2 linked regions of the Homo sapiens genome follow. The protein of the gene in region 2 purifies or fractionates together with the protein of the main gene of each other region. This does not show direct contact. Each region holds a gene or a part of one and is shown on either strand. Other genes may lie near its edges. The genes, in order: KIF14 and MPDZ.

The links.
Region 1: the proteins of MPDZ (region 2) and KIF14 purify together in Homo sapiens (affinity purification with mass spectrometry; 2 studies listed by BioGRID and IntAct, with this or other methods). This does not show direct contact.

What each region holds. Positions count from the first base shown.
Region 1 is NC_000001.11:200,550,721-200,554,800, forward strand, and holds the end of KIF14 (kinesin-like protein KIF14), read right to left. Parts: intron 3,887-4,080; coding exon 3,748-3,886; intron 3,048-3,747; coding exon 2,668-3,047; 3' UTR 780-2,667; downstream 1-779. UniProt on the Homo sapiens protein: Microtubule motor protein that binds to microtubules with high affinity through each tubulin heterodimer and has an ATPase activity. Plays a role in many processes like cell division, cytokinesis and also in cell proliferation and apoptosis.
Region 2 is NC_000009.12:13,104,926-13,108,739, reverse strand, and holds the end of MPDZ (multiple PDZ domain protein), read left to right. Parts: intron 1-1,628; coding exon 1,629-1,775; 3' UTR 1,776-3,033; downstream 3,034-3,814. UniProt on the Homo sapiens protein: Member of the NMDAR signaling complex that may play a role in control of AMPAR potentiation and synaptic plasticity in excitatory synapses. Promotes clustering of HT2RC at the cell surface.

The sequences.
Region 1 (4,080 bases), on a different chromosome or scaffold from region 2:
TAGGCTCTGTAAACTCAAGTATGCTAGTTAGCTAACTAGACAAAACAGCCTTTTGCTAAAACTTTCAGATGGACTGACTCCATGGAGGACACATAGCACATTATACCTTAAGAGCAGTAAGATAATGTTTAGTTATCTTTATTGTCCATTTATTATCATGGAACAAAATGACGGCAGATATATTTTCAGGTATGCCATAAAGGACTGCAATACAATTTGGCACATTGGCAGAATGTTATAAATGGCATATGCCTGCACCAAGTGTGATCTTATATACATAACAAGGGTTTTGTAGCTGGTAATGAAAAGGACAGAAAATAAATTCACTAACAGTCTACTACTTGCCAGCAGTTATTCCCACATTTTTCTCACTAAGTGCTCATAGATAGATAGTCCATGAGGTGGGTATTACTTTTCTTTCTGCAGATGAAGGAATGGGAGTGAAGACAGTAACATGTCTAAGGTCATGTAGTTACTAAGCAGTCCAGCTGGGATTCACACTCCAAACGTGTGAAAAATATGTCAAACTCCAAAGCTCATGCTCTTTACACATACCACATGGTGATAAATCTATTCCAGGCATAATCAACTAAAGAGAGGCAGAACAATGTTAAAAAAAAATAGTTGTTATGGCAATATTAATATTTGTTTAGTGTTTCCTAATTATTAACTTGATTTGCAACACTAGCCTAGCTATTATCAAGGCAGAGCTATTCTGAATGAAGAGTAAAATAAACAAAGAAAATCAGTAAAATAAAAAAGCATAGACCACGAAGCAATTCTAATGCTGAAAAGATTTATTAAAGGCATTCTCTTTATAACATTTCTTGTCAGTGCACATAATTCCAATAGCAAATATTTTTTCACCATTCATTCAAATACAGTATCACAATGTGTTTAGTATAAATATGTATACAAAATTTTATAAAGACACTAAAAAGTTTCTGACCAATTAAGTCATGAGTTTACAAAGCACAAACTGAAGATTAAATACTGAATATTAAGATGAAAACTACTATACAGGTACTTTAGGAAGTTCTTCAAAGAAGTGCACCTCCCGGGAAATCCTCATATGTACATCTACACTCCAGCAAACTGCACAGGCAAAGTGCTACTTGCCAGATTATTGACTAATAAAAACACATATAGAGCTTCAGAAAGAATACAAGGTCAAATGCCAAAAATAAAAAAAGAAATGAAAGCAAATGTGCTACATTGTACCATTTTAAAGAGCTTGAAAACACCACACAAGGTTCACTAATACTGTTCTGACTGCAATGACTGTATTTACTTACAATCTCTTCCTAACAAGGAAACTATCAGATTTATTCATGGTACGAATGGCCAATTTCAACTAGTTATGCCAAATGTACAAGTAGTATCTGTAAATTCGAAAAGGGCAAATGAAAGGATCAGGTTATTTAAATGAATTCTTCTTTTTTTTTCTTCTTTTTTTTTAAATGAATTATTCTTTAGGAACTGCTCAATATCACCCAAGCATAGTTACAAAGTATCTCTTCAAATTATACATACTCTTGAGGTCAAAAACGTCAAACTATTTCCGTAATGTAAGATCCCACAAGTAGAATATTATCTTTATTACTTGATCATAAATAAAGGTTTTTTTTTAAAGCTGTGGAAAATAAGGGTCTTTAATCTTCATCAAATCATATACAAATTATTTCATTATACCTTTAACAAAACAAGCATTATCAAGAGAAGGTCCAGCCTCTGATCTCCTAATCTCATCCAACAGTTTAGTATAATTCTGGCAACATTTTATTAGTTTTAAATAATATTCATACAGCCCCCATTATGAAACACAGATAACAGGGTAAACTACTGTGCCAGCAAGCCATATTATTAATATATAATTATACTATATTTAGGTAGCTACTTATAATTTGGAAAGAAACAGGAAGCTACACCCTTGAACATACTATTCAAAATGGCAACCAGTTAACCCTTTGAGAAAAGAATTTTTGATTAACAATGCAAGTTAAGTTGTCTTAGTTAAACTTGTACAGGCCATTTCACCATAAACATCCCAGCTGTCTGAGGAGAGAGAAGGCATAGGCACAAAGGTAACTGATTGTTCAGGTTTCCACTCATGAGAAAATAACCCTTTATAAACGACTAATGAACCAACTACAGACAGTATACCAATGTTAAACACTTTAAAGATAAAAATATATTTTATTTATTTATTTATTTATTTATTTATTTATTTATTTATTTATTTTGACTAAGTCTCGTTCTGTTGCTCAGACTGGAGTAAAGTGGCATGATCTTGGCTCACTGCAACCTCTGCCTCTCAGGTTCAAGCGATCCTCCTGCCTCAGCCCCCCTAGTAGCTGGGATTACAGGCACGCGCCACCATGCCCAGCAAATTTTTGTATTTTTAGTAGAGACGGGGTTTCGCCATGTTGGCCAGGCCGGTCTCAAACTCCTGACCTTGTGATCTGCCCGCCTCCCAAAGTGCTGGGATTACAGGCGTGAGCCACTGTGTCTGGCCTTTGATAAATAGATATTTTAAAGATAAAAAGACATGGACTTTTTTGAAATATCTGTGCTGATTTCTCTTAAACTCTCCTGCATAAAGAAAATTACCGAGCAAGTGTTCTTTTTCTTTCATGGGTGGTCATAAAAGTGCCTACACATCAGTATTCACACCCACTGAATCCTACTGGGTGTGCATTCCTCTGAGCTCACTGCTGGGGATGAGCCATGGAGCTCATAGACACGCTTTGGTACACCTTTATTCTTACTGCCGTCAATCCCGCTTGATTTAGATTGTTGGTGTTCTTCTTTGGTATTTTGATTATAAGTTTCCCAGGGTTTCAACAAATCAGGGCTTTCTTCAGATTCAAAACAAAAGAGGAGAGACTTAGCTAGAGATTCTAGTTCCTGGTGGACAATGTGAGTTACTCTACTCTCATAGCTGCCAACAGAAGTAGAAGGCACACTGAAGTCACTGTAAAAATCACTGGCCAAGTTGCGAATACTTTCAACACAAGTCTGGAGAAGATTTATATCACTATGGCATCCTATATGCAAGAGAGGAGGGAAAAGTTAATTAGCCTTTTCAGTTTTCATCAGGTATTTATGACTTTTATAGACTCTAGATATCTTTTAAGTCAAAGTGACCCTATCAAAACAATTCCAAACTACTTAAGATTAGTCAACTAAAGTGTTTATTTGCTAGATGAGCACTTGGTTTTTCAGGATCTAATTATTTAGGTAGAAGTACTGATACATACATTAAGTGGGAATTTAATTATAAATACAAGTTCCTATATGGGTAACTAATATCAGTGAAGTAGCATTGGGTAGGCTTCAGTTAATGACTAAAATAATGAAAAGGTTAGAAATAAAAAGGAAAGATGTCAGCCGGGGACTGTGGCTCATGCCTGTAATCCCAGCACTTTGGGAGGCCAAGGTGGGTGAATTGTTTGAGGTCAGGAGTTCGAGACCAGCCTGGCCAACATGGTGAAACCCCATCTCTACTAAAAATACAAAAATTATCCAGGCATGGTGGCATATGCCTGTAATCCCAGCTACTTGGGAGGCTGAGGCAGGAGAATCGCTTGAACCCAGGAGTCGGAGGTTGCAGTGAGCTGAAATCGAGCCACTGCACTCCAGCCTGAGTGACAGAGCGAGACTCCATCTCAAAAAAAAAAAGGAAAGATGTCTAAGGTTCCTTAAAATATAAAATTCTGATTATAAACTCCATTTGGAGAATCATACCTTTCAGTGCAGAAATAATAATTTCAATAGCTTTCTCTAAGCAATGTTTTAACTTTAAGAATTCTGGAGCACGATTAACCATCCTCTTGAAATCTTGGTATTCAAAGTTTTCTTCTTGTACTTGCCTTCTGAAACTTTTCTGTATAAATAAAGTTAATATTTAAAATAATACATTAACAGGCTCAATGGCAGTAAGGCTCAGTCAATATGATTTTAATTGCCAGAATCTTCTCTTTAAGAAAGAGAGTTTAATTTCCTCACCAGTGCTTAACTCTATTTCTATAAGCAAGACCAAAATACAATAGTAATTACTGTTTTCAAAAGAAATCAGAA
Region 2 (3,814 bases):
AGGCTCAAATTGAAACTCCATGGAAACTCAACAATATACATAAAAATATTAATGAACTTTGGTTAGTAAAGCCTATTTTTTTTTCTTTGAACACAAATTGCACATGATCGTCTTTTGAAAATGGGACATTTTAAATAAGTATGCTGTAGAGCACTGGTATTTCTGTTTGCATTTTTTTGTTGTGAAATATAAAATAGTTATAGAGAAGTACATAAAGTACACATGAAAATTAATAAGCATTTATTTTATAAATTTAATTTCATTGAATAAAACAAAAATAACTACTGAAAAAATGTAGGGAGTATCCAGCAGCCCTATCATCTATAATAAGTCAGCGATTTGCAATCAAGGGATTCAATTAAAAAGACTGTATAGTTATAATTATATAATACCTATTCTAGCTTAAGAAGGTTTAGAATAAGAATAAAGATATTGCAGTACTGGTAAAGCTATTAAAATAATTTAAACCCATGTAATTATTGTTAATATGTTAAGTCGTTTTTCAGGGGCTACAAAATTCGACAAGATTTTCTGCAGGGAAAAATTTAGAATCTCAAAATTTTACAGTGTCAAAAGAAACAAAACTTAGTCAAACGTGTTTAAAAATTTGATACAGGGCCTTTGGATTAGTGGTATAGTTCTTTATGGATATTTTATTTTATTATTTTGGAAAAGATCTTTTTTTTAGCCAATTTAAAGTGTTGTACCTACAACAAGCTAGCTATAGGCTTAATTTATAAGATTTTTAAAAAAGCTATCGGTATGTCCAAAAATACAAACAGCATTTGCTAGTGAATAGAAGAGTCATACAGTCCTTTTCCTCAGCCTAGGAACAATTTATTTAAGGCATGCTAGTTAGAACATATTTTAAGAATTTCATCATTATGGATTCCTCATTAACTTTTCCATATTTTTAATTTTATATTTAATTGCATAATTGTCTTCTATAAGCGTGCTTTAAGATGGGGTTCTTTTTCTAACACCAATGTCTGTATTTAATCTTAATCATTTAGGGTCCATAAGGAATATGAAGAATCTCTCTACCCTTGGGAAGTAAGAACTAAGACAGCTTGAATAGCTTTTTCAAAACCACAAAAAGAAATAGCAGTGGGTTTTAAATTTAGAACTTATGCCTTATCCTGCCATAGGGAATGTTCAGGTGGCTTTGTGCTTTTGCAGACCTTTGGATTTTGTCATCCCCCAAGCCCTTGTCCTGTAAAACTGTTTTTGTTCCTACCTAATCCTTTACCTTCTTTCTGTAGGTCTTATTTACAGGATAGAAAATCCTGGATTCTATTGAATCATTCCTACTAGGCAAATTCCCAAATATTCTTTATTAATTTGTGTTCCCACCAACTGCTGTGCTGAACAGCCAAAAACCCATCCAACTGATCTATCGACTGCTAAATTCTCTCTCAAATTGGTATCTCAATGCTAAAACCATTTAGGAGAAAGACCTTCTTTGTCTATGTTCATCATTGCTTAATGGCTTAGAGCACCCATGGAGCACTGGGAGCAGTGTGTGTGTACAAGCAGAGCAATTTACATTCCTGTTGAGATCTTTTTCTGTTGTGAGTTGCAAGGCAGCATTTTTTGAGAAATAAACAAGTCTACTTTATAATTTGCAGGGAGCAGCCTCTGAAGACGGACGTCTGAAAAGGGGCGATCAGATCATTGCTGTCAATGGGCAGAGTCTAGAAGGAGTCACCCATGAAGAAGCTGTTGCCATCCTTAAACGGACAAAAGGCACTGTCACTTTGATGGTTCTCTCTTGAATTGGCTGCCAGAATTGAACCAACCCAACCCCTAGCTCACCTCCTACTGTAAAGAGAATGCACTGGTCCTGACAATTTTTATGCTGTGTTCAGCCGGGTCTTCAAAACTGTAGGGGGGAAATAACACTTAAGTTTCTTTTTCTCATCTAGAAATGCTTTCCTTACTGACAACCTAACATCATTTTTCTTTTCTTCTTGCATTTTGTGAACTTAAAGAGAAGGAATATTTGTGTAGGTGAATCTCGTTTTTATTTGTGGAGATATCTAATGTTTTGTAGTCACATGGGCAAGAATTATTACATGCTAAGCTGGTTAGTATAAAGAAAGATAATTCTAAAGCTAACCAAAGAAAATGGCTTCAGTAAATTAGGATGAAAAATGAAAATATAAAATAAAGAAGAAAATCTCGGGGAGTTTAAAAAAAATGCCTCAATTTGGCAATCTACCTCCTCTCCCCACCCCAAACTAAAAAAAGAAAAAAAGGTTTTCTAATGAAAATCTTTAAAAATACTGTCAGTATTTTAAAATTTTCAACAGTATTATAAAAACATTGCATCTCCCCACCTCTAATATGCATATATATTTTTCCTGCTAAAATTGGTTTCTACAATTGAGTAAATGGCAAATACATGAAGCAATGTCCCTAAATTTTATAAAGAAATTATATTTAATGCACATTTCAATTTTCATTCTTATTTTTGACCTTTTGTAAAATATTTTCATGTTGCTATAAGTAAATGATGATGCCACCCCATGTTGACTATGGTTTTTCTAGAAAGCAACTATGCTGCTAACCATAGAGGAACATAGAAGGGTTCCAGAATCTTTAGTGCTGGTTTTAACAACCGATGCAACATTAAAAATGTGTTAGTGTGCTGTGCAATTGGTTTTCAATTCATATTAATCTTAATGACAGAGAACAATGTGTTACTAATTATTTTGGTTGTATGCCATTAGTAAATTGATAGAAAAATTAAGGGGATTAACATAACTTCATTTCATTGACTTATATTAACATCTTATAATACAATAGTTTAAGACTAAGGGAAACAGATGGAGCTGTTTATTGAGACAACTGGTGAGGAATTATCATGTGTTCATTCCCATTTTAGAGCGTGAAACTCCTACATTAGAATATATAAAGTCACTTTAAATATCTATATTTGTAACAGAAGTAGTGTACAGATATTTTATTACAGCATTTTTGTGTAAATGCAGAATTAAAGTGAATAAATAAGAATTTTCAGTGGTGCACAAATAAGCAGCAAGCATTTTTTTTGTTCTTTTTACTGTGGAAAAGCTTTGTTATATACTGTTCAAGATTTACAACTTAAAATTGGTTTTTATCATGTCTAACTGCACATATGGTGTCCATAGTTACAGCTAAAGGAACTTTGGACAACATCATTATGGAAAGCTTAATATTTTTTACCTCCACAATTTTTTCTAGCACTAAAGATTCATAGACTCCTCATAGATGAGAGGAAGATGACATTGTAGAAAGAGAAGTATCCTGCCTGTATATGTTTTTCTCAAATGCTGTTAATGCAGTAATATTGTAAGTTGCTCTTTTGTGTGGTCAAGAACTATTCAAGTGTATTCAGATGGACAAAATCATAATCAAAATTATTTGTATTAATAAACATGACAAGTCCAACTTGAACACTGAGCAAGGAATGAGGGGAACTCTGTTCTACTAGTTTTGTACCAAATTAGCTAACAAACGTGCATTTCCCTCTCATTCATCTTATCTGTAAAATGATAGATTATTTTATCACAAAGGTTCTATTTAGTTCTAAAATATAAGAATTCCGTGATTCTTAGTTACACAAAACGAATAGAAGAAACTGCATATTGTAACAACTCAAAGTTGTTAACCAATCATTGTAAATTTAGGCGCTCAATGTAACAAAACTCATTTTAGTATCCCAGTGACACATCTACCTTCTTAGCCATCATTTAGTGGCTCTCCATAACGAAAGATGCCATTATTTCATGGTAGGCTGCTGGAAGATGAACTAACCTCACATCTGAGTTTG